Homo sapiens: one gene and its partners. The protein of the gene in region 2 interacts with the protein of the main gene of each other region in a pairwise test. Each region holds a gene or a part of one and is shown on either strand. Other genes may lie near its edges. The genes, in order: FNDC9, NSG1, BTN2A1 and SPACA1.

Region 1 (7,749 bases), on a different chromosome or scaffold from region 2:
GCCTTGGCATACCCTGGGGGATACATTTTCCAGCTTGAGAAGCTTTGTCATGGGGCATTCATCCAACCCAGGTGACCTACAATAGCAGTGACGTTTGATGGGAGAGAAATGGGTAGTCTATAGACACATTTGTACAAACGACCTACTGTGTGGAAAGCTTTAGGCTACATGATGCGGGCGCTCTCCTCCCCACTCTCATTCCCCACAATGAGGCAGTATAGCGGGTGGGTCACCACCCCCCCTCTGTAAGGCACCCGCATCAGGGGCATCCTGGTTGGCTTCGGGATCCAGTTCAGCTCCATCTCTGGAGTTCTTGCGTGGCATTTCCACCAGGGGGAGCCCCTGCAGGTCTTCCTCCCTCTGACCAAGATCCGGGGCCTCCTCTGGCCATCTCACCAACCCATTGGCCTCCTCCATGTGGCCAGCCCTGTAAGACCATCGCGGCTCATGGCAACGGACACACCAGAACTGGAGGCAGATGAAGGCCAAGACGGCTGTGAAGCAGGCCAGCAGAATGGCCATCAGCACCCAAAGGGAGATCTGGGGGTCTACCAGGGAGCTTCCAGGAGCCAGCGGACTCTTATCCAGGGTGTGGAACATGGTGCAGTAGTGCCTGTAAGGGAAGGCAGCCTTCTTACAGCTGATGCACAGGAAGTAGAGAGTGGAAGGGGCAAGATGTTCCAGCACCACGGAGCTGATCGTTCGAGGCACCTTCTCCTCGTGGTGGAAGCTGTAGCGAAGATAGCCAGAGAAGATGCTGTTCCAGTTGGGCCTGTACATAATATGGTAATAGTCCTCCAGGCAGGGCTCCGAGGACGACCAGGAGATGATGGCTCCTGTATAAGAAATGTTCCCCACCTCGATGTTCATCCCGATTCTGGAACCAGAATCAAAGTGAAGAGTGACATCCCCTGATTTAAGTATGTATTTATCATAATCATAGCCACCATTTATTGCACATTTGAGACGGGCACTCATGTTGCCCTCATCTTACAGACAAAGAAATGGAGGCCGAGAGGTTCTGTTATTTAGGCATAGCGAAAAAGTGGCAGGACAAAAGTTAAAACTGGGGCTGTCCCATGCCAAAGTTCAGGCCTAAGAACAGATGCACCCATGCAATCCCAGCCACATCCCACCCTAGCTGAGATCCTTCAGATAACAAAGGGGATTTTCTTAAGGGGATTGTTCTCATCCCCTTAAGAAAAAAGAAGAAAAGGTAAGGAGAAATCAGTAGAACCTCAGAGGCTCCACCTTTATTCTCAGGTCTGTGACCTCCCCTCAGGCAATTGATTCACCTCAATTTTCCTTCTTGACCTCCTGTTTCTGCTCCAAGTACTGTGAGCTCAGTGATCTAGAACATTCTGCCCACTGCTTTTTTTAGCCTCCTGGTTCTGTTGCCCATGGTGAGTGGAAATTCGCTTCGTCACTCTTTGGCAGCTGATCTCACCCCAAAGCTTCTGCTCTTGTTTTGTTTGTTTGTTTTTTCAAAGCCAGCGGTACCAGGAAATTTATTTTATGGGTGAAGATAATCAGCCCCTAATATCAGCATAACTACCACTATTTAATTCTGCTGTTATTATGAATGTTAATCATGGTAATAACCACTCACAGTAAGTGGTTGCTATGTCACTTGTCATGCTAGATGATTCACAGGCAGTAATTAATTTCCTTTATTCTTCATCACATCCTCTGAGCTAGATTCCCATTTTACGGATGAGCAACCTGATGTCACACCGCTAATACGTAGAAAAAGGACTTAGTGCCGCCTAACCACTACATTTCCTAATGCAAGGCTGCCGGGTTTAGTTACAGACGTTATCGCAAAATGAGGTGCCAGGACTGAGACCCAGTTGCTGTTTTTCCAGACAAATCAAATGAGCCCTCTTTAGATTGCCAGGCCCCGCTTTGATAAGAGAGAGCCATCTTCAAGTATTTTAGTTTCTCTCATGCAGTTCCCTCTACTGATTGCCCCTGATCAGAAATACAGAGACAGTCATAGTCAGCCTACGCATATTCACATAACAGTCTCACCCTGCTTTGTCTTCCGCCTCTCCTCCCTCACATGAAACCCCGTAGGTTTCATTTTGGGTTGCAGTGACATAGTAAACAGCTGTCAACTGGATTTTCGCCTGCATTGGATATTAAGCCAAACCAATGGCTATTATGACCTGCCTTTCTCTCACCTCTGCTTTCCCCCATCCTCTTGTGTTTGTGCCCATTTTCCTCCAGGAGTGGAGCTGCAGAAAGGTGCACAGCATTGAGTAGTTTCTTAATCCTTGTTTTTCTTCTGTAAGGGTAACAGTGAACTAAGATACTCAGGAAGGTGAATAGTGTCTTTCTATGTGGCTGAATATTTCTTCCCAGTAAATAGGGAACGAAAGGGATGAGACGGATGTGCTCAGACCCTTCCAGGGAAGGTCATCATGAAGGAGACCGAATGTTTATGTTTCCTAGCTTGGTGTCCTCTACACACTCATCCTCCCCACACCACACATCACTATAAATACACTTTCGACCACGATGAAAAGAGCTTAATTCATTATAGGCAGCCACCTGTGTAAAACCTTTCCATCAGGAGTAATCAGGAATCCTGTTTCTTGTCACGCACAAATGTTCTCTTGGCTTCCTATCTGCCACTAGCTGTCTGTACAGATGGAATTACCTCAGCAGACATTTTTAAGAGCTTTCTGTCAAGACGCAAATAGCATCCTCACCTTTTAGGACCAGGTCCGTCTCCCTTATTGATTTTTCTTCCTCTGTTTCCGTTTCTAAATTCTCCCCTATTTTTAACTATTCATTTGCCCGGCCCTTCTCCAAGCAGAGTGTGAAAAGAAGCCATTTCCATTTCCAAGAAGAGCCATCTATATGTCTTACCTGATGCTTGCAGCGTGTCTGGTTAGAGCTCTGCCCTCCGAGGTGCAGTAGATTAAAGCTGAGAGAATGGGGCCTTCTCCCTCCTCTGCTCTGGGCTTTCCGTGTTGTTTCTCTCAACACTGAGTAATCCCACTGCCGCCCCTAATGCTCACATTATTCATTTCTTCAGATCAGCATCATTCACCATGGCAACCAGCAGGCATCTGTACGCACGATGCTTTCAGGGACCAGCCTGGAAAGGCTTTTGCCCAGTGAGAGGAGCTCTCATTCCTTTGGCTGAAAAAGGGCAGATGATCCCCTGAAAACTGGTCCCCAGTGCAGTACTAATTCTTCTAACACTCCTACATTTTCTCCCCAGTTGGCTGATTATTATTTTCTTGTCCCATCTAGATCCTCTTTGGCCAATGGTTTTAAATGCAAAGATGCTTTTCTCAGTTATTCCACAACCAAAGCAGTAATATTCATCTTCATCCCCTCCCACCCCTACACTTCCCCATCCCAACTGCCTACCCCACCTCTTTATCTTCATCTTTCTTTATTCTTGACTCATGTGCCATTACATAGTTATATGGTACTGGTCAAGACCCTTTTATTTTTATTGTCTGAGTCTCAGTTCCACCATCATCTGTAAAGCTGTGGGCTTGGGCTACATCAGGATGGCAGATCAGAAGGCAGAAGACCTGAGCCCTATCCCTGCACAGCCCTGAACCCCTGTCAAGCTTGCTAAACCATCATGGCACTCTCACTGGGTTGAATAATGCCCCCCCAAAATACATATCCATCCAGAACCTTAGGATGTGACCTGATTTAGAAATAGAGCCTTCGTAGATATAACTAGTTAAGGATCTCAAGATGAAATCTTCCTGGATTTAAGGGTGAGCCCTAAATCCAATGACTAATGTCTTTGTAAGAGAAAAGACAGAGAGACTCAAGGGGAAGAAGCCAAGGGAAAACAGAGGCAGAGAGTGGAAGGATGCTGCCATCAGCCAAGGAACACCGGGAGCCATCAGCAGCTGGGAAGGCAAGGAAACATTCTCCCCTAGAGCCTTGGAGAGGGCATGGTTCTGCGAGAGCCTTGATTTCAGGCTTCTGGTCTCCAGAACTGTGAGAGAATAAATTTCTGTCATGTTAAGCTGCCACATTTATGGTAATTTGTGATAGCAACCCTAGGAATCTAATGCAGCACTGCTTCCAGCTGGGTGCAGAAACAGCCCCAGAGTTCCTCTGAACACAAGCGTCCCAAGAAACTGCTTCCCAATCAATCAGTTGGAGTTGACGCCAGAAATGGAAACTGTTTGCTACTCCTGGATTGAATCATCCCCAGCGTTCCTTTCCTTTCAAGAATCCAGACTGCTTGCCTCCCCTTTTCTCATAAAGGGCCGTCTGGCTTTGAGGTTCCATCCCTTCCTGTTCCTTTCAACCTTGTAAGAACCCATTGCCACCATTCTATTGAGATCACAGGGTGTGTCTGGAATAGAGGGTGGAAAGTAGCTCAGATAGATGTAGACCTGAATAAATTTATACACATTATATGTTTTTAAAAGTCAGCTTTTCTCTTCTTGGTTCTTGGCCAAAGTATCCAAGTTAACCCATGAAGGTCTCTTTCTGATTCACATTAATGATAAAAGGTTAGGAAGAAAGCCAGGCACAGCTGCAGTGGTGTGCACCTGTAGTCCCAGCCACTTGGGAGGCTGAGGTGGGAGGATCACTTGAGCTTAAGAGTTCCAGACCAGCCTGGGTATTATAGAAAGACTTTTTCCCTTGGAAAAAAAAAAAAAAAAGAGCCGCCTTGGTGAGTTGTGACCCTACCCTTGGCCAAAGGTCTCCGGGAGGCTTGGAGTCTTGGGAACTCGGGAACAAGCCAGTGTTCCTTGATCAGAAAGTTGCTCTGCAGCTTGCCCATGGCATTCAGTCTTCCCAGGCGCCTGTCTTAAATCTGCAGCAATGCATGCAGCATGTCTCTTCCCATGCGAGCACAGCCAGGTCAAGTGCTAATGGTGAGTCCCCACGGAGCATAAAAGCATCCTCCCCACAGAAAGGCCACGCAGCTGTTTGCAGATGCCCTTTGAAAAGGTTATTTTGCGGGGAGTAAAAATACCAGAGTTAAGGGGTCTGAGGAGGAACAAGGTAGAACTCAAGCCTTTTTCCACAGAAAATTGGAATTTATTTTTAATATTCTTGGATGACATTTTTAACCAAGAGAAATTTTCCACTGTGGAATTAAGATACTCAGAGAATGTGAGGCCTCCAAGCCCTCTTGTTTCACAGTCCTGGGAGAAGACATGGCATTCCTCAGACCGCTTGACTGATGAGTGGCAGAGCTGCCAGTGAAATGGGGTGGGGCCCCAGACTCGGAGGCGGAGGCCAGGGTTCATCCCGCTCCTCTGAGCTGTCGCCGCTCACCAGCAGCACCCAGAGGAGCCAGTGCAGCCGTTTGTGAAGGAGATAAAGTATCTGGGACACCTGCCCCAGGACATTACACCCCAGCCAGGCTCACACTTTCTCCATCATCAGGGACAATTCCTCCAGAGTCTGTGCAAGTTGTAGCCTCTTCGCTCTCAGGCCAGGTGAGCCCCAGCTAGTTGACATCAGTAGTAAATTACTGCTAGAGGAAATCAGCTAGGAGCAAGGTTCTTCCACCCTTCCTGAAGGTGGCAGTGAAGGGATAATATGGGGCAAGCCCCAGTCCCAAAGCTGGATTGGCACATGGGGAAAGTGAGTGGCTCACAGAGCACGCCCTGGAATTCCCAGGCTGGAGTGCAGTGGCACAGTCATGGCTCACTGCAGCCTTGACCTCCCAAGGCTCAGGAGATCCTCCTGCCTCAGCCCCCTCAAGTAGCTAGGACTACAGGTGTGCACTACCACCCCTGGCTAATTATTATTATTTTTGAGCTGGAGTCTCACTCTGTTGCCCAGGCTGGAATGCAGTGGCAAAATTGCGGCTCACTGCAACCTCTGCCTCCCGGGTTCCAGTGATTCTCCTGCCTCAGCCTCCCGAGTACCTGGGACTACAGGTGTGCACCACCATGCCCAGCTAATTTTTGTATTTTTAGTAGAGACGGAGTTTCACCATGTTGGCCAGGCTGGTCTTGAACTTCTGACCTCAGGTGATCCACCCACCTCAGCCTCCCAAAGTACTGGGATTACAGGCGTGAGCCACTGCCCCCCGCCTCACCTGGCTAATTTTTGTATTTTTAGTAGATATGAGATCAGATAGTTGCTCTGCGGCTTTCCCATGGCATTCAGTCTTCCCAGGGGCCTGTCTTAAATCTGCAGCAATGCATACAGCATGCCTCTTCCCAAGAGCTAGTGGTGAGTCCCCACAGAGCATAAAAGCACCCTGCCATTGCAGTGAACCAAGATCGCACCACTGCACTCCAGCCTGGGCGACAGTGGAAGACTTCATCTCAAAAAAAAAAAAAAAGCATCCTCCCCACACCGTGTTGCCCAGACTGGTCTCGAACTCCTGGGCTCAAGCAATCCACCCACCTTGGCCTCCCAAAGTACTGGGACTACAGGCATTAGCCACCGCACCTGGCCAAATTCCCTCACTTTATGTATTTATTTATTTATTTACTTATTTCAGTTTTTTTTATTTCAATAAATTTTGGGGGAACAGGTGGTTTTTGGTTACGTAGATTAATTCTTTAGTGGTGATTTCTGAGATTTTGGTGCACCCATCATACGAGCAGTATACGCTATGCCCAATGTGTAGTCTTTTATCCCTCTCCCTCCTCCCACCCTTCTGAGTCTCCAAAATTCATTGTATCATTCTTAATGCCTTTCTGTCCTCATAGCTTAGCTCCCACTCAAGTGAGAACATAATCATGTTTGGTTTTCCATTCCCGAGTTACTTGACTTAGAATAATGGTCTCCAACTCCATCCAGGTTGCTGCAAATGCCGTTATTTCATTGCTTTTTATGGCTGAGTAGTATTCCATGATGTATACATGCCACATTTTCTTTATCCACTCATTGATTAGTGGGCATTGGGCTGGTTCCATATTTTTGCAATTGCGAATTGTGCTGCTATAAACATGCGTGTGCAATATCCTTTTCGAATGATTTCCTTTCCTCTGGGTAGATACCCAGTAGTGGGATTGCTGGATCAAATGGTAGTTCTCACTTTTAGTTCTTAAAGGAATTTCCACACTCTTTTCCATTATATTTGTACTGGTTTACATTCCCACCAGCAGCGTAAAAGTGTTCCCTTTTCACCACATCCACGCCAACATCTATTATTTTTTGATTTTCGATTATGGTCATTCTTGCAGGAGTAAGGTGATATCACATTGTGGTTTTGATTTGCATTTCCCTGATCATTAGCGATGCTGAGCTTTTTCTTTTATGTTTGTTGGCCATTTGTATATCTTCTTTTGAGAATTGTCTGTTCATGTCCTTAGCCCACTTTTTGATGGGATTGTTTGTTTGTTTGTTTGTTTTTCTTACTGATTTGTTTGAATTCCTTGTAGATTTTGGGTATTAGTCCTTTGTCAGATGTATAGTTTGCAAAGATTTTCTCCCACTCTGTGGGTTGTCTGTTTACTCTGCTGATTATTTCTTTTGCTATGCAGAAGTTTTTTAGTTTAAGTCCCATTTATTTATCTTTGTTTTTGTTGCATTTGCTTTTGGGCTCTTGGTCATGAAGTCTTTGCCTAAGCCAATGTCTAGAAGGGTTTTTCAGATGTTATCTTATAAAATTTTTATGGTTTCAGGTCTTAGATTTAAGTCTTTGATCCATCTTGAGTTGAATTTTGTATAAGGTGAGAGATGAGGATCCAGTTTCATTCTTCTACATGTGGCTTGCCAATTATCCCAGCACCATTTGTTGAAAAGGGTGTCTGTCCTTTCCCCGCTTTATATTTTTGTTTGCTT
Region 2 (8,010 bases):
ACTCCTGGGCTCAAGGGTTCTTTCCACTTCAGCCTCCCAAAGTGCTGTGATTAAAGGGATGAGCCACCAGGCCTGACCTGACTTTCTTACTATGCACTTGAATTCGAATTTACACCTCTGATGTTCATGTCTTACTTTACTGTGAATGTAAGCTAAGTGGATGCCTATTCAATTAAGCAAACATTTCCTGATTACCAGGCCATGCTCTAGACAGGGGGGATATGGAAATGAAAGATTAAGTGGTTCTGCCTGATTTGCTCATGATCTATATAGAAATGTAAATACCCAGACTCCGGGATAGAGGAGCATAAAGAAAGGCCAAGCTTCAAAGAGGAGGCAACATTGGATCTGGGCTTTGGAGGATGAGGAGCAGTTTGCAAAATCGATGAGGAGTGGGGAAGGCAATCTAGGCAAGAGAAGCAGCATTTGCAAAGGCCTGGAGGCAGGCACTTGGGGGAATGGAGAATTTGGCTACAGGACAGGGTTTAAGGAGAAACAGGGATGACTTCACCCAGGTGGGCTGATTCTTCACATTGCAAATGGATTGTCCCATTTGCAGAAAGATCCAGAGCCTAATGTCTCTCCCGATTCTGTGTCAGTGTGCCGGCTGATCCCAGTGTGCCGGCTGGTCCCAGCGTGCCGGCTGGTCCCGTGGATTGAGAAGTGGACCCAAGAAACTTAAAACCATCAGAGATGAGGATGTGTGCAGGGAGTGACTGTTGTGGGATGCAGGTTTCTTTACGGGGTGATGAAAATGTTCTGAAATTAGTGGTGATGATTGTACAACCTTGTAAATATACTAAAACCAGTTAAGCGTATACTTTAAACTGGTGATATCTGTGGCATGTGAATTACATCTCAATCTAAAAACAAGACATTTGGATGAAGCATCGCTGGATCGACGTGGCCAGGCTGCAGAAAAACAGAGCAGAACCTCTGCTGATCACCTGCCACTGAACCTCCATAGGCTGACAGCACTGGGTGGCCACCCTCCCAGCAGGACCTCATCCATCCTGGAGATCTGGCTGGCTGTGGGAGGCCTGACTAGATCCTGCAACCCATCCCAGCTCTGCAGGGAAGCCTGTGGCCGGGGACTCATCATTTGACTTCTGTGACCTGCAAAGAGGCTCATGAGGCCTCTAGGGGAAGAGTCACCTTAGTCACTCTGAACACTTGTCACATAACCAGGAAAAGTGTCTATCACCTCGCCCTGGCTCCAGCACCGGCTGCTAAGAATAGAGACCACAGGAGTACAGAATTAGAGGTCAAAGCAATAGTAATACCTAAAACAGGCACTTAAAAAAATAAGAATAGCTCATTTGATTCTCACAACACTGCTCTGATGGAGGTTTCATTATCTCCATTTATAGATGGGGAAACTGAAGCATAGAAAGGTTAAGCAGCTTGCCTGAAGTCACACTGCTAGGAAGAGAGGGACAGGATTCAAAATCGGGCCACGGCTTAGCCACTGTGTCACATTGTCTCTTGCTGTGACAGTCTGGACTTCAACCAGTGGGACAAGGGAAGTTGCTAAAACGCTTGGACCTGGAAGTACCAGGGTCATTAGAGAGCAGCGCCTGGCTGCCCTGAGGAGAGGGAGCAGGGTAGGAGTTACAATCGTACAGGCAGTGATGGGTCTGTGCCTGAGATCAGCAACCCTGGAAGTATTCCTAAAAGAGTCATTTAGGGCCAGGTGCAGTGGCTCACTCCTGTAATTCCAACACTTTGGGAGGCTGAAGCAGGTGGATCACGAGGTCAGGAGATCAGGACCATCCTTACCAATATGGTGAAACTCCGTCTCTACTAAAAATACAAAAATTAGCTGGGAGTGGTGGCACGTGCCTGTAATCCCAGCTACTCAGGAAGCTGAGGCAGGAGAATCACTTGCACCAGGGAGGCGGAGGTTGCAGTAAGCTGAGATCACGGCACTGCACTCCAGCCTGGCGACGGAGCAAGACTCCGTCCCAAAAAAAAAAAAAAAAAAAGAGTCATTTAGAAAAACTGAGTATGTGTCAACAATCTTCTGTGGCACTTGGATTTTAAATTGTTGGTGCTGGGATGAAACTGGTCCAGGGGGAGATCGCATCCCATTGATTTTCCCTTTTTGTATGTTGTGAAAATACCTGACATCTGTTTGACCTGCAACCACCATTGCAGCCTCAGCCATCCCCATTTTGGTGGCTGTGGCTTCTTCAACCTAATTTCTGCCACCCTCTGTGAATGACTTGGGTTCTCCAAATCACCACACCCTTGCAAGCTTAATGCCTGTAGTGAGCTGAATGGCGACCCTTAAAAGATATGTCCACATGCTAACCCCGGGAACCTGATTTACCTTACATAGTAAAAGAGTGAACATTATCTTATATGGCAAAGATAGGATTAAGTTAAGGATTTTGAGAGGGAGACCTTATCCTGGATTATCCCAGCAGGCCCTAAATCCTATGATGAGTGTCCTTATAAGAGACACAGAGAAGAGGAGGAGGCAATATGACTGGAGTGACATGAAGGCAGAGATTGGAGTGATGCAGCCACAGTCAAAGAATGTCTGGAGCCACTGGAAGCTGGAGGGGGAAAGAACAGGTTCTTCTCTGTGGCTTGTAGAGGGAGTGAGGCCCTGCTGGGACCTAGACTTTAGACTTCTGGCCTCCAAAGCCAGGAGAGAACATGTTTCTATTGTTTTAAGCCAAATTTGTTCCAACAGTGGCAGGAAGCTCATATACTGTCTTAACACATTCTGTTCTCCTACCTGGAATGCCTTCCCCTCTGCACGCACCTCTCTCAGGCCCACCTGTAGGAAGCTTTATCCACAGTCTTTACCCACAGTCTCTGGATGTCCTCCCTCCTGGCAAGAGGCAGAGGCCACTCTCCCACAGGGCCACTGCTCCCAGCAAAGACTTGCCCTTGTCCGTAGCTCCCTGCGGGTGGCGCTGTGTCTCATGCATTTTGCATTGTCCATGCCCTTCACAGGGCCCAGATACAATCAGCAGAGGAAGAAAACCACAGGATGAAACAGTCCCAATGACCAGCACCAGTGAAGACCCAAGACAGCACAAAAGGCCAGCTAGCAGAGAAACATGATTGTTCACCGTCCATCTCTGGGACAACCTAGGTCCTTCTTGCCTTTCTGTCCTCCTCAGTTGACAGAGTCTCTAAGGGAGGGGCAGGGCCTCCACTTTGTTCCTCCTGGTGTGGAATTCTGACCAAGTGTGTGTGTGTGTGTGTGTGTGTGTGTGTGTGTGTTTGCGCGCGCGCGTGTGTGTTGGGTTCTGTTAAATGCTTGAGCCTGAGACGGGGGGCGGGGCGGGGGGGGGTGCGGGAAAGCCATTTCCTTGCTTAAGCCCAAAGGGTTTCTCCTGACCAGTGGGTCACTCTCATGGCAGATGCCTGGGCAGATTTCTGAAGTGGAGCAAGAGAAATCTTCTCTTCTTCACCTGCTTCAGGGAGGCATCAAAGTGCCAAAAAGGTGGGTTCTGTGGGTCCCCGAGGCCCGTGGCAGGGGCCAGAGTCTGACACCCGCTTTCCCTGGGTTGGGGGCGGGGTGCCTCTGCCAGGAGCCTGGGTTCAGACCAGGCTGGCCTGTGGTCAAAGGCACACTTAGACCCTGGCTGGAGAGTTGGGGCGAGTTACGAGATACCCACTAGGTCACCTGTCAAAGACGGCTAGCCCTCCTGGGGATTTTGAAATCAGGGCACCCGCGGCAAGTTCCCAGGCTGTGCCTGGGGCTCAAGGCGGTGGCTGCTCCTGTGCTCTGGGCTTATTCCCAGGATTCTCAGACGGCTGATGGAAAACGCCCCGGACCCTCCGTAGTGCCGCGGGGAAGTCCCCGGAAAGGGTGTGAAAAAGTATCGAATTTGGGTGATGCCTCCTCCTCGTCCAGCGCCTGACAGGGCCCAGCTCCTGGCCCAGGTGCCCAGGAGGCACCGATCCCCGCAGCCGGCCTCCTCCCGCGCGGGCTCCACTCCCATTTCGGCCTCGCCCCCACACCCCATAGTCTTTCATCCGTGAGTCCTGCAGGCAGGACGGGTTGGAGGTCTGCAAACAGGACCCTCTCTGGGAAGCCGCGACAGCGGCTGAGCTCGGGGTTTGGGGGCGCAGGTCGGGCTAGAACCACCCCCCTTCTCTCCGCGTCCGGGCATCGTCCCAGCGGCCCCTCCTCTGTGCCCAGGATGCTCGGGCGGCGGCTGCAGTGGGACCTCCACCTTCTCTGCCAACCAGAGCGGAGGAACCTTTCCGCCTCCCTCCAAGCGGCGCACTGAGCGCTCTTTGCCTAGAACGACTTCCCTCCCGCTGCCTGGGGCAGCCTCACCCTGGGCGCCCACACCCCAGCCCTGGGAGAGCGCTACTCCGCCTCCCGCACCACCGAAAACCTCCTCCTCCTTTACGGGCCGCGCCTCCTTTACGGGCCGCGCCCCCTTTATACGCGGACGCGCCCTCTTTTGGTCGCCCCCTCCCCAACCCAGCACTAAGGAGCACCCTGCTCTGGTCTCCGCCACCACCCAGCGCCTCCTGGACCCATCCCCCCAAACCCTTGAACGTCCTCAGGACCCCCAGGTGAGCGCGGCGCGCTGCGGGCGGGGACCCTCTCTGCACCTCCCCGCACCCCTGGGGGTCGCTCTGTCCCTACGGTCCCCGCCTCCCCTTTCTCCTTTCTAAGCGCCTCGCGCCCAGGCCGCCGCCCGGGGTGGCGCAGCCCGCAGCCCTCCCGCTCCGGGCGCCCTCCGCCGCTCCGAGACCCCCTGGGGGCGCGTCCTCTCCCGCTCCCCTGTTCCCTCCCCCGGCTCAGGGCGGGCGCGTGGTCCCAGGGGAGGCTCCCGCCCAGCCCCGCACTCCTTTGTGCGGCCGGGCGGGCGCTGCGTCAAGGTGGAGGCGCGGCCACACGCGCGCACCCACCCGCGCGCACCCAGCCCCCGGGAGAGGCAGGAAGGGAGGCGGCGGCGCGAGGAGGAGGGAGCGGCCGTGGAGCCCAATCGTTCGCTCCCCTTCCCGGGTCCGCGCGCGGCGCCGCCTCCGCCATTGCTGCGAGCAGGAGCAGGAGACGCGGAGCTCGGAGCGCTCAGCTGACCTGCCGGAGCCGGGCGTGGGTGAGTGCGGCCGGCCGCGCCTGGGCTTGCCGAGGCCAGACCTTGCCCGCCCAGGAGCAGTGCCCGGGGGATGCCCATCTCCCGGAGTACGCGGGACGGGGCTGTGAACAGCGGGTCGCCCGGGTGCGGCGGCCCCAGGACCGGGGACCGGGTCTGGAGGTGCTGGGCAGGGGCGGCGCCCCCTTCCCTGGCCGCGGTGCGCCCTTGCGCCCGGCGCTTGGGTCCTGCGAGATGAGGGTCTAGAAATACACAGCACCACCCGACCCCCGCATCGGGCCGTGACCACCGCGTCCCCACGAGCCCTCCCCGAGACGAAGCGGGGCCGGGGAGCTCGCGGACGCCGGGACGCCGGTGGGTGTGGGTGCCCACTTCCCCCCCGCCCCGCCCCGGGTCTTGCTTGTGGTGACTCCCCCCGGCCCTCCCGCCGCAGGCTGCAGCCTCGGAGCTCCCGGAACGATGGTGAAGTTGGGGAACAATTTCGCAGAGAAGGGCACCAAGCAGCCGCTGCTGGAGGATGGCTTCGACACCATTCCCCTGATGACGCCCCTCGATGTCAATCAGCTGCAGTTCCCGCCCCCGGATAAGGTAAGCCCCCCCACGCCCCTCCACGTTGCCGGGTGTGCACCCCCAAATCTCGCACGGCGGGCGCAACAAAAGAAACGCGCCGCGTGCGCTGGGTACGCGAAGTGGGGGCGGGCTCGGGAGGCCGGAGGGAGCGCGGCGAGGACAGTGTACCCGCGCGGGATTCTGGATCGCGGGATGCTGGGCGGGGGAGGGGAGCCCTGCCTTAGATGATATTCTCGTCCTGACAGTGGAACGCGGTGGGGCAAGATTCCTTCGCGTTTTTCCTGGGAGCCTCATCCGAGAGGGCCCTGGCCCCGCAGCTGCCCTGCTCCTCCCTTGCCCCGTGGCCCCAGGGGCTCTGGATCGGGGGTGAGCCTAGGGGCGGGCGAGGCTGCCCCTGTACCTTCCCGGGTGTGGCAGTTCAGCCCGACTTGCCCCACCGAGGCGGGGGAGCGTTCTCCTTGGTCAGATGGCCCCTCCCCAGGGCTGAATTGTTCTCGCCCTTTCTGCCTGCCCCTGCCAGGCTGGCGCTAGGTGCAGGAGGGTGTGCGCGCTCACACAGGGTCTCCTTCCTCTTTGTTCCTTTTGTGAAATCTCCAAATAAGTGCCCGGGCTCGCTCAGTATTGGTGTCACTGGGAAAAACCATTCATCAACCTTTCCCCAAAGTGTTTTCTGCTGAATTTAAAGAATCTCCTCTTTTTGAATGTAGCATCCAATTAAGTAGTTTCTGTTTGCTAAGAATAATATTTCCAAGAGTTAACACTTAAAAATGTAAATAGATCTTTGCATGTCTAGGCAATTGTACTGTAAAATTCACATCTAAGACCATAGACACAGCATCTACTCTCAGCATCTTGCTGCCGCTTACGAACCACCACAGCCACGAATAATTCCCGGAAGTGCTTTTCTATTTATTTTCTCATTTAGTCCCTGGTGAAGGGGCTCTGAGCCAGGGCTCTGTCTTCGTTCCAGCAAGTTGGTGATTGCTGACGGGGTGGGTGTTGTGGGGTGGGGGTGTCCTGGTGGGGGCCCTGACCCCTGTGAAGGTGTCCTCCCAGCTTTATTGTGTGTGTCGTCTGGGGAGGGAGGCAGGAGCCGGGAAGAGGCTGGCAGCGGGGGTTTCAGTTCAAGAAAGGGGGATCAGCCGGCCACACCTGTGCCCCCCAGGCCACGGTGGTGCCACTCTGGGCCACTGATGGTCCAGGCTAGGCTTTGCAGGAGGGGCAGGGCTGCCTGAGGCCTCAGCTTCCACTCCACCCCTCCCTGTCTAGGCATCAGACTCGTCCAGTTAGCGGGGCCTGGCCCCGAGGCCCCCACACCCCCTCCTGCCTGGGCCCCCAGCTGCTCGGCTGAGGAGCAGTGGCGCCTGTGCCAGGAACTCCGTGTCCTGAGGCAGCACCTCTATCAGGTGATTCCCCTCACTTGGCCTGAGCCTCCTCTCTTGTCCTCAGTCTGTTCCATTCCAGAACCATTTGGCACAGTTGGTTTATACAGGGAGGAGGGTTTCAGGCAGGTATGAAATCCTCACCAACTAATTAGGTCGACCAGGAGTAGCCTAGGCAGCTCGGAAAGGTGATGAGTCTGCTCTCTCTGCAAGCGTCCGAAGCGGGGCAGCCAGCAGGGATGCTCTTCTCGGGTCCAGCCAGACCTTCCATCCCGGACTTCCCGCCGGGACTGAGTGTGGGTACAAGGGTTATGGCTCTTGGGATCATTTTCCAGAAGGCTTCTAAGGTCACAATGAGGGAACTGAGCCTCAGAGCATTTATGGGACATACCCAAGGTCACTGGGCTGAAGGTTACAGTCCTCCAGGATGCAGAAGTTTCTGGCAGTGCCTCTTACTCCACTGTGCTTGGAGCCAGATGTCTCTCACGTAAGACCTCTCTTAACCTGAACAACAGCAACGTGTTGCTAACGGTCAGAGTTCAGGGAGGCGATGTCACCTGTTTCAGGTGACATGGCTTCTGAGGGGTGGTGACACAGTTGGGTTATAAATGAGAATCTGTTCTGAGAACGTGTATGGAGTGCTGAGGTGCTGGGGTGCAGCGGTGACAGCAGTCACAGTGCTGGCAGCAGAGTCAGGGCTGGTCTCCCCTGACATTTGCCAGACACTTATTCTGCACCAGGAACTATTCTGCCAGTTTTACAGGTTTAAATTCTTTTAATGTGTTGATAATGCCATGAGGTCACTACCATGTTACCCCCATTTTGCAGATGTGGAAATGCAGGCACGGAGAGTTTGAGAATTGCCCAAGGTCACCTAGCCTGTTAGTGGCAGGTGGGGATAGAATCCAGGTCGACAGAATATTGATGGGGCCCCCACATACGGGAGAGGTTTCCATGGGTTTCCTCATCCTCAGCAGTAG
Region 3 (7,215 bases), on a different chromosome or scaffold from region 2:
AGTGCAGACGAGGTTTCACCATGTTGTCCAGGATGGTCTCGATCTACTGACCTTGTGATCCACCCACCTCGGCCTCCCAAAGTGCTGGGATTACAGGTATGAGCCACCGCGCCTGGCTTCAGAAATTCATGAACTTAAAGCAACACAAATTTATTATCTCACTGTTCTGTAGGTGAGAAGTCAGAAGTCCCACAGGGATCTCACCAGGCTAGAATCAAGGTGTCTGCAGGCTGGATTCCTTTCTGGAGTCTCTAAGGAAGAATCTGTTTCCTTGCTTATTCAGACTATTGGCAGAATCAGTTCCTTTCATTTATAGGACTGACGTCCCAGTTGTTCCCTGGTTTTTAGCTAAGGGCTGTACCCACTTCTAGAGGCTGCCACACTCTGGCTCCTAGCTCCCTTCCTGTATCTTCAAAGCAGCAACAGCGCATTGAGGCTCATCTCCTAGGTCTTTTTCTCCATTGTGTCTCTCTGATTCTTTTACCTTCTCCTTTTTTTCCTTCCTTTCTTTTTTTTTTTTTTTTCTTCTTTGACAAGGACTCGCTCTGTCACCCAGGCTGAAGTGCAGTGGCGTGATCTCAGCTCACCACATTGTCCCCTGGGCTCAAGCAATCCACCCATCTTAGCTTCTCAAGCAGCTGGGAGCACAGAGCCACATCACCATGCCTGGGTATTTTCTTGTAGAGACAGGGTCTTGCCATGTTGCCCAGGCTGGTCTCAAACTCCTGAGCTCAAGCAATCTGCCCACCTTGGTCTCCCAAAGTGCTGGGATTATAGGCATGAGCCACCACGCTCAGTCTGCCTTTTACTTTTAAAGACTCCTATGATTAAACTGAGATCACCCAGACAATTTAGAATAATCTCTCTATTTTAAGGTCCATAACCTTAATTCTGTGTAAAATTCATTTTACTGTGTTATACATTCTTTTCATAACTTTCATAGTGAATATAGCTCAAAGGGTGGGTGCGGGGAGCACTATTCAGCTCACCACACTGATTTGGGAAGTGATTCCAGGAAACACAAGTGCAGAAACAAATTGAGAAATGAAAAAAAGCCAATTACATGACAAATGGGATAAAGGGTTCACTCATGAGTCAGTTACCATGTGGATAACTTGGCTGAATCCCTTTTAGGACTCTCTAAGAAACCATATGAAATGTGTGATATAGCTCAGAATCTTCCTAAGGACTACAGGGCCTGGGACTTTATCTCCACTTCCCATCCTCCTTTGCTTGAATTGGTTGAAGGTTGGCCTGGGAGTGTTAATTCTAATGCACTTTAAGATTGGGCTATGTAACTGCAGAAAAGCAACTATCACGGGTGTGATAAAGCTCACAGGCAAAGGAGAAGGGAGATACTCACTGGAGGTGGAAAGGTTGTCATCCTTGCAGAAAACTGTGCCTCAGCTATTGGCAAACTGTGATAGGCCAAGAGAATATGGGATGGGGCATCAACAGCGTCTGTTATAAGGGCTCTGCCTCTGAGAATATAGTGAATGCCTTTCAAGGTCTCTCTGCCCTCGCTGTACCACATTTAGCATTAGTGACCTCTTCTCTTCCAATACATGCCCACATCACATGGCCCTGCAGCCTCACCACATGGACTGGGTCTGGGATGGACACCTGACCCAGGCTAGGCCAGAGGACCAAGTGACATGTGGCTAGTTACTCCTGTAGCAGATGTGCATGGGAGCTGTGGGAAGAAATGCTCCATTCATGGTGTGGACTAAACAATGGTGGATTGCAGAGAAGACCAAAGCAGATGAGCAGAGAGAAGGCTACAAGATGGAAAGAGTTTAGGCAAATTTCTCACGTTTGGTTCTTTTAGAAGCCCAGTATCATTTCTTCTTTTTGAAAAAATGTGTTCTTTTGAGGCAAGATAAATGTACTCGTTAATATTGCTTGTAGTCCTAATATTCAGAAGCTTATGCAACTATTATAATATGTTCAGTGATTCTGTGAGTCAGGAATCTAGAATTTGAACAGGGCAGAGTAGGAATGGATTTTCTGTATGTCAACATGTCTAGGCCTCCCCTGGGAGTACTCCATAGCTGGAGATGACACAGCTATATTACCTTCACAGACTGTAGTTTATTGTAAAGCAAAAGGAAATCAATGCTTACCCTGTATCCTGGTTCTTCCAGGGTTGGCAGGTCCATAAAGAACCTTGCCAACGTGACCCTTCCTGTCTCTATCCCTCCCACTACAGAGCATGATTGGGTTAGGTTGTTACTATCTAACCGGGCACACCCCAGTAGAGCCTGATTTCTTTCTAAGCTACCCCATCGTCAACTGATCCTCTTCCTTCTCAGAACACACACGTTTCCCTCTAGCTCAGATCAACTTTGGCAGAGGCTGAAGCCTGGCTTAGCTGGATGCTTCTGGCAAAAGGGCTACTTCAAAGCCCTGGGCCTTATTTCTTCAGGTAAAAAAATATAAAGTCAGATCTCATCCTGGCTGGCCATGCTGTTAGACCCTTTCATCCTTCTCTTCTGCCTCTTCTCAACAGCTGCCCAGTCCTGTTTGGAATTCATATACATACAGTTCTAATACTGATGTATTTACCCTCATAAGCCACTCAACCCAGAATCTTATTTGAATTATAATCCAGAAACATCAGGTGACGTGTGAGACTACTGTATGAGAAAGAGACAGTTTAAGGGTCAGTCCAATGGAAAAAAGAGTTCTCAGAGCTTTCTTTAGCTTATTCTCATCAAAGAGCTTTCTCTGCAGAAGGAACCTACTGGTTCCTCCTTTCCAGTCCTAGAAATCCTGACCTAGAGTGGCTTAATCCTGCTAGCACCTCTCTCTCGCACTCTGGTGCCAAATGACTCCAGGAACTGGGCCATGATGTGGTGGGAATGACCTTACCCTGAGCATGTCACTCATGCATTGAACAACAGCTAAGAGCAGAGCTTAGAGCTTAGAGCTGGGCCCTGTAAGGTGAGAGGAATCACATCCTGCAGAAGTCTGTCCTGAGAAGCAGGTACTCCTGTCACAGCAGAGACACAGTGGATACCTGAGTAACAATAATACAAGACAGGACGTGGGAACAGCAAAAGATTTGGGTGTCAGAAGAGGCCGAGAACACTTCAGGCAGGAACATTCAGAGTTGTTCTTGGAGGAAGTAGGCACGAAGGCTGGGCAGGATTTCACGGGGCAGAGATGGAGCAAGCAATTGAAATGAAAGCCATGGCATGGGAAAAGGAGCACTGGCCACAGGGAGTGCAACGTTGTGATGCAAGGCCACTGTGGAGCCATTGCTAGCGTATTAACTGCAAAGTTTTGAATTGAATCAGAAGGGAATTGGAGGCCTCCAGACTAAGCATTTAGACACTTGAGGGGAATATTGACAACTGGGCCTCGGGAAGATTATTCTGGAAGATATCTTTACAATTACAAGATTGGAGCCTTTGGGAGAGGGATGATGTTTACGGGAGGATGGTATGTGTGCTAGTGTGTGTGTCTGTGTGTGGCTCTTGGACCCAACCTGACCACCTACTATCTAGAAGGTGAAGGACAACTAGAAAGTTTTGCTCAATTCCATCTTCTGCCACCACCAGAATGCCACCTCCCTGAGGGAAAAGGTTTTTGATCCTCAGTCAGGATTCTCAGCACCTCTTATCCGATAGCTTTGGAATGAATGGCAAGGCCTTCATAACAGCCACTGCAACTGCTGTCTCCTTTCCTTTGCTACCCCTCCCGCTCCAGCCATGCCAGCTTCCCCCAAGCCCTCCTGCGCTCCAGGCCCAACCTCCAAAGCCAGCAACTTGAACAGGAGTCCTCTGGCTTTGGAAAGGGGGCGGCTTACGTTTTCCTGCTCATGTTTCCTCCCCAGCAAAATTGCCCTCTACATAGAGAGGCCTCTCCTTGTGGACACCAGCAAAGCCACCGACCTCAGTGACAAACCCCAGGGAATCTCCCCAAGGAATCTCAAAGCGAGAGAGAGAGAGAGAGTCTTGAGAGAGAAAGAGAGAGAGAGAGAGTCTTGCTTTCGAACAAAGAAAAAGGAAATAAAAAGACCCGATAATCTCAAAAGGTTATTTGCTGCTTGAAATTTGTGATTCGGTGTATTCTACCCAGCAACTGCTGAGAAATAAGGTTCGACACCATTGGCTGGTTCACTCACACCCGGCCAATCCTGGGCTCTAAAATACTTAGGGAACTCTTGGGACTGTGGAAGCCCAGGAGACCAGATTTCGTTTCCTGCATCTCCAAACATGGCGACCTAGGAGAAGGGGAAGAACAATTTTTTCTCCTCTTTTGGGAAGGTTTGTGTCTAGTAGTGCCTGTGCCCCTGGGCAGATTGGAGAGAAGAGGGACGACTGGAGAATCGTCGAGAACCAGCGGAGAAAAGAAAAAGCAACGTTTAATTCTAGAAGGTAGGAAACGGAGGGGAGGCGCTACAGCTCCGGGGTGGGCACAGTAGGTGGGGGAAGCGGGGTCTGCTGTGGACACGAGACGGGGTCCTGGGACAGGGAAAGCCCACCGGTGGGGAGGCGCGGCCTCGCCTGTCTTTGCCTCAGGCTGCCCGGCCTGGGTCGCGGGGAGGAGGAAGTGAAGGGAGGAGGGTGTGGTAGAATCCAGCGACAACTGAAGAAACTGCATTCTGGCCAGAGAAGTGAGCCGAGGAGGGCGGAAAAAGGCCCCCTTGATCTTGGCATTGATGGCTTACTTCATGGAATGTTTAAGGAATCCCTCTCTCGGGACATACCTGAGCCTTCGGATGCAGGGGACTCCCTGAAGTTGGGGCACTGATGAGACCTACTTGAGTGACGGGAGAGGTTGGGCCCGACCAGCACTGAGGTGCCAAGACTCCTAGGCTGATTCTCCTCTGTAACCCTAGGCCTCCTGTCCCTGCCTGCTCTGGGTGCTCATGGAATCAGCTGCTGCCCTGCACTTCTCCCGGCCAGCCTCCCTCCTCCTCCTCCTCCTCAGCCTGTGTGCACTGGTCTCAGGTAGGGATGTGTGCCACTTGCTGCTGTCACCTATCAGAAAGGAACATCAACCCTGTAGTCTGCAAAGGGAAAGAAAGAAGGACTGTGGAGTTGTTGACTTACCCTTTCATTCTGAACATGTTCATTGAATTTATACCAGCACTGTCCAAAAGGAATACAGTGAGGCACAAAGGCCGAGTGCATGTACAATTGCAAATTTTCAAAAAAAATTAAATTTTACTTTTTATTTTAAAAAGTAAAAAGAAACATGAAATAAATTTGTATACTATATTTTGTTTCGCCCCAAATAATCAAATACGAATATTTAAATACTTAGTTAATATACCATATTACCAATGAGATAGTCAACATTTTGAAATTTTAAATCTTCATAATCCTGTGTGTATTTTACACTTACAGCTCATTTCAGTTGGAACTAGCTAGTGGATATGTGTCCTATTGCACGGCTCAAGTTTACAGTACACTCAGGCACAGCACTAGATTGGGAAATCGAGGAAAATCCCCTCAAGGGCACAGGGTGGACAGAGGGTGCTCAGGGCAGGTTCCTCAGGGTTTCCTTCATGAAGCAGAAGCACACTTTATAGTTACTGCTCCCAGGGGTGCTGTCGACTAGCCACAGCTACTGGTCCCCAGATTTCTCAGCCCAAAGAGACCCTATGGCCATGGAAAAAATAAGTTTGTCCCTAGAATATCTGCTTCCTTTCTTGCCTTAGAGATGTGATGGCTGGTGTCTTTGTCTGACTCTACCCCTTTGTTGAACAGCCCAGTTTATTGTCGTGGGGCCCACTGATCCCATCTTGGCCACGGTTGGAGAAAACACTACGTTACGCTGCCATCTGTCACCCGAGAAAAATGCTGAGGACATGGAGGTGCGGTGGTTCCGGTCTCAGTTCTCCCCCGCAGTGTTTGTGTATAAAGGTGGCAGAGAGAGAACAGAGGAGCAGATGGAGGAGTACCGAGGAAGAACCACCTTTGTGAGCAAAGACATCAGCAGGGGCAGCGTGGCCCTGGTCATACACAACATCACAGCCCAGGAAAACGGCACCTACCGCTGTTACTTCCAAGAAGGCAGGTCCTACGATGAGGCCATCCTGCACCTCGTAGTGGCAGGTGCGTCGCTTCATTTTGCTTTGTTACTTTGGCACAGTGTGACTTTGGGGAAAGTTTCTCTCCTAACCTCAGGCCCATTGCAGACCAGCAAATTTTTGTCTGGACTCCCTTTTCCACTCTCCCTGTGGAAACGGAATTCCAGGGAAAAATCCTTCCTCCTGCACAAGGGACACATGAGTGGGTTTGCCCTGCTAAGCTAAGGGCTTCACTTCTTGAGAAGCACATGCAGAATTCAGCTGAGGCCGTGAGCAGGGGAAAATGGTCAGTCTCGGAAGAGAAGTCTTATACCTGCCTTAGGATTGAACTGTGCACTTCTTTTGGGTTTTTTTTTTCTTTTTGAGACAGAGTCTTGCTCTGTTGTACCCTCGCTGGCACGATCTTGTCTCACTGCAACCTCTGCCTCCCAGGTTGCACTTCTGAGAGTGAGAGGAGACACTGTCAATAATTGTTCCAAGACAACTGGAATAAACTGATTACCCAGAGAACTACAACATATCAAATCTTATTTCTTGATAAATATTAATCTTTACTTCATCTTTCCCAAAATGCTGATTGCAGAGAGAGTGACTTATTGTAAATAGATGGTTTTATTAAACCAAGACGAAATACAGAAGCAAAATTATATATAGTTCCTGCTAACTCCATAGAGAAAGACTACGAATTTTGCTGGGAGGTAATAGGGAAGCCTTCCACATAAAAATGCATTTAAACTGGGATTTCTAGGAATTTGTTAAAATGACATTAAGTGATTACTTCAGTTTTGGGGTTAGTGTATTATGCTTTAAAAGATATATTTGGGCTGGGCGTGGTGGCTCATACCTGTAATACGAGCACTTTGGGAGGCAGAGGCAGGTGGATTACTTGAGGCCAGGAGTTCGAGACCAGCCTGGCCAGCATGGTGCAACCCCATCTCTACTAAAAATACAGAAACATTAGCCAGGCTTTGTGGAGTGTGCCTGTAATCTGAGCTTCTTGGGAGGCTGAGGCACAAGAATTGCTTGAACCCAGGAGGCAGAGGTTGCAGGGAGCCGAGATCTTACCACATCACTCCAGCCTGGGCGACAGAGCAAGACTCTGTATCAAAAATTAAACAACAACAAAAAAGATATATTTGAGGACTGAAAAAGCCTTTAAGGTGCAGGATAAT
Region 4 (7,021 bases), on a different chromosome or scaffold from region 2:
TGTTTCAAGATAAAGAAAAATCATTAAGATATTAGATTTATGGCCAGGGGCGGTGGCTCACGCCTGTAATCCCAGTGCTTCGGAAGGCCGAGGTGGGCAGATCACAAGGTGGAGATCGAGAGCATCCTGGCTAACACGGTGAAACCCCATCTCTACTAAAAATACAAAAAATTAGCCGGGCGTGGTTGCGTGTGCCTGTAGTTCCAGCTACTCAGGAGGCTGAGGCAGGAGAATGGCGTGAACCCAGGAGGTGGAGCTTGCAGTGAGCCGAGATTACGCCACTGCACTCCAGCCTGGGCAACAGAGCGAGACTCTGTCTTAAAAAAAAAAAAAGATAATAGATTTATATCCTTATACTTTTGTTATACCTTGTATACCATGTAATATACCTTTTAAATATATCTTTTATACAAGTATACCCTTAGATTTATAAAAAGGGGCCAATAGACCTACATAGTAATTGCAAAATAGAAAGTTGTAGTCTATACAATGGGTTTTATCCTATACAAATATAACTATATGTTATTTTTGTCTTGGAATACTTCTAAGGAAGAACAGAAGTCATAAAATATCAGCCTTTCAAATCAACTGTCAGAAACTGAAAAACTCAAATTGCACTCTGATGATATATACCAAAAGTTACCATGTGCTGTCCTGAACTGAAGAGAACATTTCAGGATCTGGCCACAACTAAAAGAGCAAGATCATTTTCCTTATCACTGTGGATGCCAGGCTTTTGTTAGTGTAGTCTAAGACCCAGTAGATTTTTAGGGAAGCCTCTGCACATCTTTGATTCCTATTGAATTCACTATTGAACTCTCCATTCGTTTTTAACTGTCCTATCAAATTAAGACCACCCATAAAATAGTTTTGGACAGTTGGCTTTTTAGCTGTATGTGAAGGACTTTTTATTCCTACAAGGTTTCATTTTGTTAGATTTGCCCATTATTTCACCCTGTCATCTTTTAGATCCAGATGTATCATCAAATATATTTGCTATCCTTTCTAGCTTTGCAGAATTCTGGATTCAGTCAGCATGATAACAGCATCTTTTTCCAGGTCATTAATAAAAATGTTGAACAGGACAGAGCCCTGTGACACATCACTCCTACCATGTTGACACCAACTGGTTAATTAACAACTGTGGTCTTAGAGTTTAAACAGTTTCACATAAAACTACTGACATTCAGACCATATATTTTTTTTACCACTCATAGGTTTATAACAAGAAATTTTGACAAATGCCAAACTGAAGTCCAGTTACATACAATTCCACTGACCCACCATTGTAGGATTCCCATTTTTAAAAAAAGTTACTGAGTAAACTAATGGACACTCAATACATCATAGAATATTAAAGCTGAAAGGGACTTTAGAAACTTTCTTATTTAGTCTCATTTTTTTTTTCTTTAAGGAAACAAGTTGGAAGAAATTGAACAACTCTCCCAAAGTAGAATGCCTAGTGATTGACTAATGGTTTTTGAAAAAGGCTTATATTTAAAAGTAGTGCAGCACTCATTCTCTTAGCCGTGTTTTCTATGTTCAGGATTTGGCTTTTAATTTGTGTCTCATAATGTGTCTGTAGAAGGTATCTAAGCATTCCACAATTCAAAATGGATCATCATGATAGTCTAAATCATTTATTTTCGTTAAAGAAATGACTTAAAGTCAATATTGATTTACTTATGTGCATTGGGTGCTTACTGAGTATGCAAGATACTATACTGGGGCTGGGCACGGTGGCTTATTCCTGTAATCCCAGCACTTTGGGAGACTGAGGCTGGTGGATCACTTGAGGTCAGGAGTTTGAGACCAGCCTGGCCAACATGGTGAAACCCCGTCTCTACTGAAAATACAAAAATTAGGTGGGCATGGTGGCGTCTGCCTGTAGTCCCAGCTACTCAGGAGGCTGAAGCAGAAGAATCACTTGTGCCTGGGAGGCGGAGGTTGCAGTGAGCCGGGATCATGCCACTACACTCCAGCCTGGGCAACAGAGCAAGACTCTCTCGGAAAAACAAAAACAAAAAACTATATTTGGTGCTCTTAAGTACAGAATAGTAGTGTTTATGAAGCTATTTTGAGATTTTACAGTTATCAAAATAGGGGAAAAAAACATTAAATTAATAAGTACAAAATGAGTTTAAATTGGGTAATTATATCTTAAGTATGTTTGTAGTACTAAACAATTTATAGAATGCTTTCACACACATTATCCTTATTTAATTCTTACAGCAATCAAATGAGGATTTTCCTTTCCAAATTTTGCAGAAGGGTTAACTAAGCCTGACAGCATTTAATTAAATTTGCTTAAATGCAAACAGCTAATTAGTGATAGAAGCAGCTCTTTGGACTCCAGTTCGATGTGTTTTCCATGCGATTTGTTGTCCTAGGGTACAATGCCTTTTGAAAGTCATCTTCTAACAACTCACTTTATATTTTTTCTATTGAGACTTTCGTCCTAATTTGAGCTGAAGAATTGCTTATATACTATAGCTAGTGGAATTCTATGCCAAACTTCAAATGATTAGAAAAAGAGAAACATATGATTTAGAACCAACAACACTTAATTTCTTAAATAGTGATATATTCCTATACTAACCTTGTAAAGTGTTGAAATAAATTCTTAGAAATATTTAAATTTACCATCTTAACCTGGGAAATGAGTAGAACTAATCTATAACTTTTATCATTTTAATGAACACTGGTTAAGGGCTTCTTTTTGAATGGAAATTATACACTCAATTTTGGAAAATAGAGAATAGAAAACATTGGTTTTTACAACAGATAGGGCTTTGTGTGTTTTTCTGAGACCCTCTATCAAGTTTTGACTCACTATATATCAACTGATGAAAAACATTTTTAAGGTATATACAAAGTTTAAATATAAACCTTCCTATTAGGTTATTTCCTAATTTAATGGACTTCTTTAGAGGTTTGAGACTCTTTTGAGTTAGACAATAACAGTACTCAGAATGGCATTGTTTTCTGATTTAAATGGAAAACTTAAAAAATGTCTGCTGCCCATATCATACACATGTCTTTCATCTCCAAGTAAGAGGTGTTTCACTTAGAAAAGTTTTCATATAATTAAATAATGTATCTTTACCCTTTATGTTTAGTTTCAAATAGGAATGTCGTCAAAGAAGTAGAATTCGGAATGTGCACCGTTACATGTGGTAAGTAGCTTGGAGCAGATGAATAAACCATGTTGTAATTTGCGGGGGAGGAAAGGTAAAAGCAGATAGTGTGCAACTTTGTAACTTGTGTACTTTCATGCATCTCTCATGGATTTTTATTTCTAATAACTATAATGTATACACAAAACTCAGGGTGATTGCTTTAAACTGTAAGATATTTTCAGTTTATAATCTCTAAATCTTATTTTAAGCCAGCTCCCTATTTTTTTTTTTTTTGCACATAAACTGCCTTCACCAAAGTAAAATTTTCTCTATCTCACAGATGTTCAGAAGACGAAAGATTTTCCAATGCATCTCACAGATGTCTTCCCACATATTGTGTTGGCAAATTTATCAAGAATTTGCTTATTTGTAATAGTCCATTCTAAATTCTACATTTCTCCAATTTGCGTGTCATGTTTTGGAGAAAAGATGTATTGGCTTTGTGGGGAGGATAATATTCAAAGAATATGACTTAGTCTGATCATTCCATGGGTAGAAATTGGACATAAAATTTCTCTAACAAGTTTACAATGAAGTTGATGCTGCTAGTTAGAGGACTATCCTTTGAGAAACAATGCTGTAGACCAGGGTACTGAGAAGACCATAGATAATTCACAATCAAATTAAATTTCTTCTAAATAGAATCTGCCTTGGAAAGAAAATAGTGATGAGAGGGAAAACGGGACAATTATCAGAGGATAAGAAGACAAAATCCATTCAGATCTAGATCAGAATGAATTTTGCAGGGGTGGCGGTGTCAAAAATTACACCTGAATTGTTTTTATTTGGAGAAGCTTTTTAAAATTGTGGTACAGTATACCCAACATAAAACTTACCATTTTAGCCGTTTTTAAACATACAAGTCCGTTGACTTAAGCATATTCACATTCTTGTGCAACCATCACAACCGCCCATCTCGAGAACTTTTTTATTATGTCAAACTAAAATGCCCATTAAACACTAACTTCCTGTTCCCCCCTCCTCCCAGCTCCTGGCAACCACTCTTCTTTCTATCTCTTAAAATTGTTTTAACCTGTTTTTTTTTTTAACCTTAATTTCTTAGTAAGTCAAGAGTCATAAAATGAGAGAAATCCATGTAGTAAGCCTGCAATTACTTATTTGTGGTTTACATCTTTGTTTAGCTACTAACTTCGGAAATTTTCACAGGTAGAGAATTATTTTTATGACAGTTCGAGTAATTGCCATTGTTTTCTATTATTTAAAGACAAGTTTAGAAATTGTACTCACTCAAATGATTATTTTTTTAAAATTATTTGCCTACTATGTGCCAGGCATCGTTATAGATGCTAGGGATATGAGCAGACAAAGCAGACAAAACTCTCTGCCCCCAAGCAATGTATAGTTTAGTAAGAGCAGACACATAATATGTAAAACATGTAATGTATCAGATGGTAATAAGTTATAAGGAAAAAAATAAACTAGGAAAAGCAATATTTCATGCCGAAAATGTTAAAAACCTTCCAATTTAGAACTAGAAGAGAAAAATGCCTTGATGAAAATTCTGTTAAACTCCTGAAACAATATTTTAGCAGTCAAAAAGTTTTCTTTTATATCCAGGCAGATTTTTAGATGTTACTTGGTATTACAGAAAATCCCACACCTACATGCATCTCAGTGAACTGTATTTAGCTAAATAAATAAATACATAAAATAACTGCTTTAAGCCGGGCGCGGTGGCTCACGCCTGTAATCCCAGCACTTTGGGAGGCCGAGGCGGGTGGATCACGAGGTCCAGATATCGAGGCCATCCTGGCCAACATGGTGAAACCCCATCTCTACTAAAAATACAGAAAAATTAGCTGGGTGCGGTGGCACATACCTGTAGTCCCAGCTACTTGGGAGGCTAAGGCAGGAGAATTGCTTGAAGCCGGGAGGTGGAGGTTGCGTGAACTGAGATGGCACCACTGCACTCCAGCCTGGCGACAAAGCGAGACTCCATCTCAAAAACAAAACAAAACAAACAACAACAAAAAACCTGTTTTAAAAATATTAACAATAGCATGTTAATTACTTCGGAATTAAGGCTGTGCTTCTAAAGACGCTTTCAGGTTGGCCGTGGTGGCTCATGCCTGTAATCCCAGCACTTTGGGAGGCTGAGGCTGGCGGATCACCAGGTCAGGAGTTCGAGACCAGCCTGACCACCATGGTGAAACCCTGTCTCTACCAAAAATACAAAAATTAGCTGGGCGTAGTGGCACGCGCCTGTAATCCCAGCTATTCAGGAGGCTGAGGCAGGAGAATTGCTTGAACCCGGGAGGCGGAGGTTGCAGTGAGCTGAGATCGCGCCACTGCACTCTAGCCTCTGCAACAGAGCAAGACTCCGTCTCAAAAAAAAACTTTGATAAACTCAAGTGGAGCCGTACTTCAGCCATTCTCAGCCATCATCTCTCTTAACCAAAGACCTTCTTCCTTCCATCCTTCCATTTTCTTGTTTCGTATGTAGCCTTCTCCCTTACTATTCAACGTGCGGTCCACAGACTGCATCAGTATCACCTGGGAGCTTGTTAGAAATGCAGAATCTCAAACCCATTCAAGAACAGCTGAATCAAAATTTGCATTTTAGTAAATCTCCAGGTGACTTGCATGCACTGTCAAGTTGGAGAAGCAGTTATAAGACACCTCTAGTCATCAACTTCCCTTTGCCCTCTAAGATAACATCGTAGAGGGGCTGGAAGAGGAAATCTGGTAATTAAGGAAATAAAAATGGACTCTTTCTTAGCCTGTCTTAACATGGGACACGGTTCAACATGTAGCTAATCCCATGTTTTGTTATTTCTCTCAATTGTGGTGATGTGAGGCCAACTCTGGAATTCTGAGATCAGTTAGGAGAGTTAAGTTCTTGTTACAAAAAGTGTGACAATCTAAAGAGAGCATCTTGTTGGAAATGGAGATTTGGTCAGTAATAGGTTCTCCTCTCTATATTTAATACAGACATTTTATGAATCTAAATATTTAAAGGCATCATTTATGCTAAAATGTGATTTTTTATTTTCCTCCAGAAACTTTCCCCATGCTTCCCCAAAAAGTTCCATGGTCAAATAAGTTTGGGAAATATTGTATACCACTATATTCCATCAAATCCACGAATTTATGGACTGTAAGAAGTACATTTTATGTACTCTAAAAAGGAAAAATACTGCCAATTAATTTATGACATGTTATCAATTGTAAATGTATTCTGATTTTAAAGATGTTAAAATGTTTTTACATCTTAGATCAATGCGAATGTACACAATAGCATGTTATTTTACTAGTGTATTAAAAGTTCCCTCAAAATTCCGTAGTAAAGCGGTCCCTTTAATTTCATTTGATGTAACATTTTCAAATGTGTATGATCATGGAATCCTTTTTCTTATGGTAACCAGAGGAACTAGTGTTTCACGTAACTCACTCCAGAAAATGCTGTTTTAGGAAATAATTCAAAATGAAGAGCCAAAAAAATTTTAAGTGTTATCGTTCTGAATTTAGAAACTTAATTTCTGAAATTAGAAGAAAAGTCTTAAGAAAAGACCTAGGTGGGAAAGTGAAGACACTCTGGAATCAGTTTTTTTCTTAACATTTGCCTTTTTAAATTTTAAACCAAAGGTATTGGTGTTAGAGAAGTTATATTAACAAATGGATGCCCTGGTGGTGAATCCAAGTGTGTTGTACGGGTAGAAGAATGCCGTGGACCAACAGATTGTGGCTGTGAGTTGAATTATGTATTGGAGGGAGACTGTGGGCAAGAGTTTACTCTGGGGAAATATTTTTCACCTCAGGTTGCCACTGAGTAGAAGGAGGCAACCAGTTGACATACTCAAAGGAAATCATAAAATTTTAAA

Evidence for each region.
Region 1: the proteins of NSG1 (region 2) and FNDC9 interact in binary tests that used the Homo sapiens proteins (3 or more experiments, as listed by UniProt).
Region 3: the proteins of NSG1 (region 2) and BTN2A1 interact in binary tests that used the Homo sapiens proteins (3 or more experiments, as listed by UniProt).
Region 4: the proteins of NSG1 (region 2) and SPACA1 interact in binary tests that used the Homo sapiens proteins (3 or more experiments, as listed by UniProt).

The regions. Positions count from the first base shown.
Region 1 is NC_000005.10:157,342,667-157,350,415, forward strand, and holds the start of FNDC9 (fibronectin type III domain-containing protein 9), read right to left. Parts: upstream 3,012-7,749; 5' UTR 2,875-3,011; intron 878-2,874; 5' UTR 871-877; coding exon 196-870; 3' UTR 1-195.
Region 2 is NC_000004.12:4,382,093-4,390,102, forward strand, and holds the start of NSG1 (neuronal vesicle trafficking-associated protein 1), read left to right. Parts: upstream 1-5,009; 5' UTR 5,010-5,081; intron 5,082-5,511; 5' UTR 5,512-5,537; coding exon 5,538-5,666; intron 5,667-5,893; coding exon of another isoform or gene 5,894-6,014; intron 6,015-8,010.
Region 3 is NC_000006.12:26,453,761-26,460,975, forward strand, and holds the start of BTN2A1 (butyrophilin subfamily 2 member A1 isoform 1 precursor), read left to right. Parts: upstream 1-4,194; 5' UTR 4,195-4,382; intron 4,383-4,846; 5' UTR 4,847-4,876; coding exon 4,877-4,958; intron 4,959-5,720; coding exon 5,721-6,068; intron 6,069-7,215.
Region 4 is NC_000006.12:88,050,827-88,057,847, forward strand, and holds part of SPACA1 (sperm acrosome membrane-associated protein 1 precursor), read left to right. Parts: intron 1-3,119; coding exon 3,120-3,176; intron 3,177-6,785; coding exon 6,786-6,887; intron 6,888-7,021. UniProt on the Homo sapiens protein: Plays a role in acrosome formation and establishment of normal sperm morphology during spermatogenesis. Important for male fertility.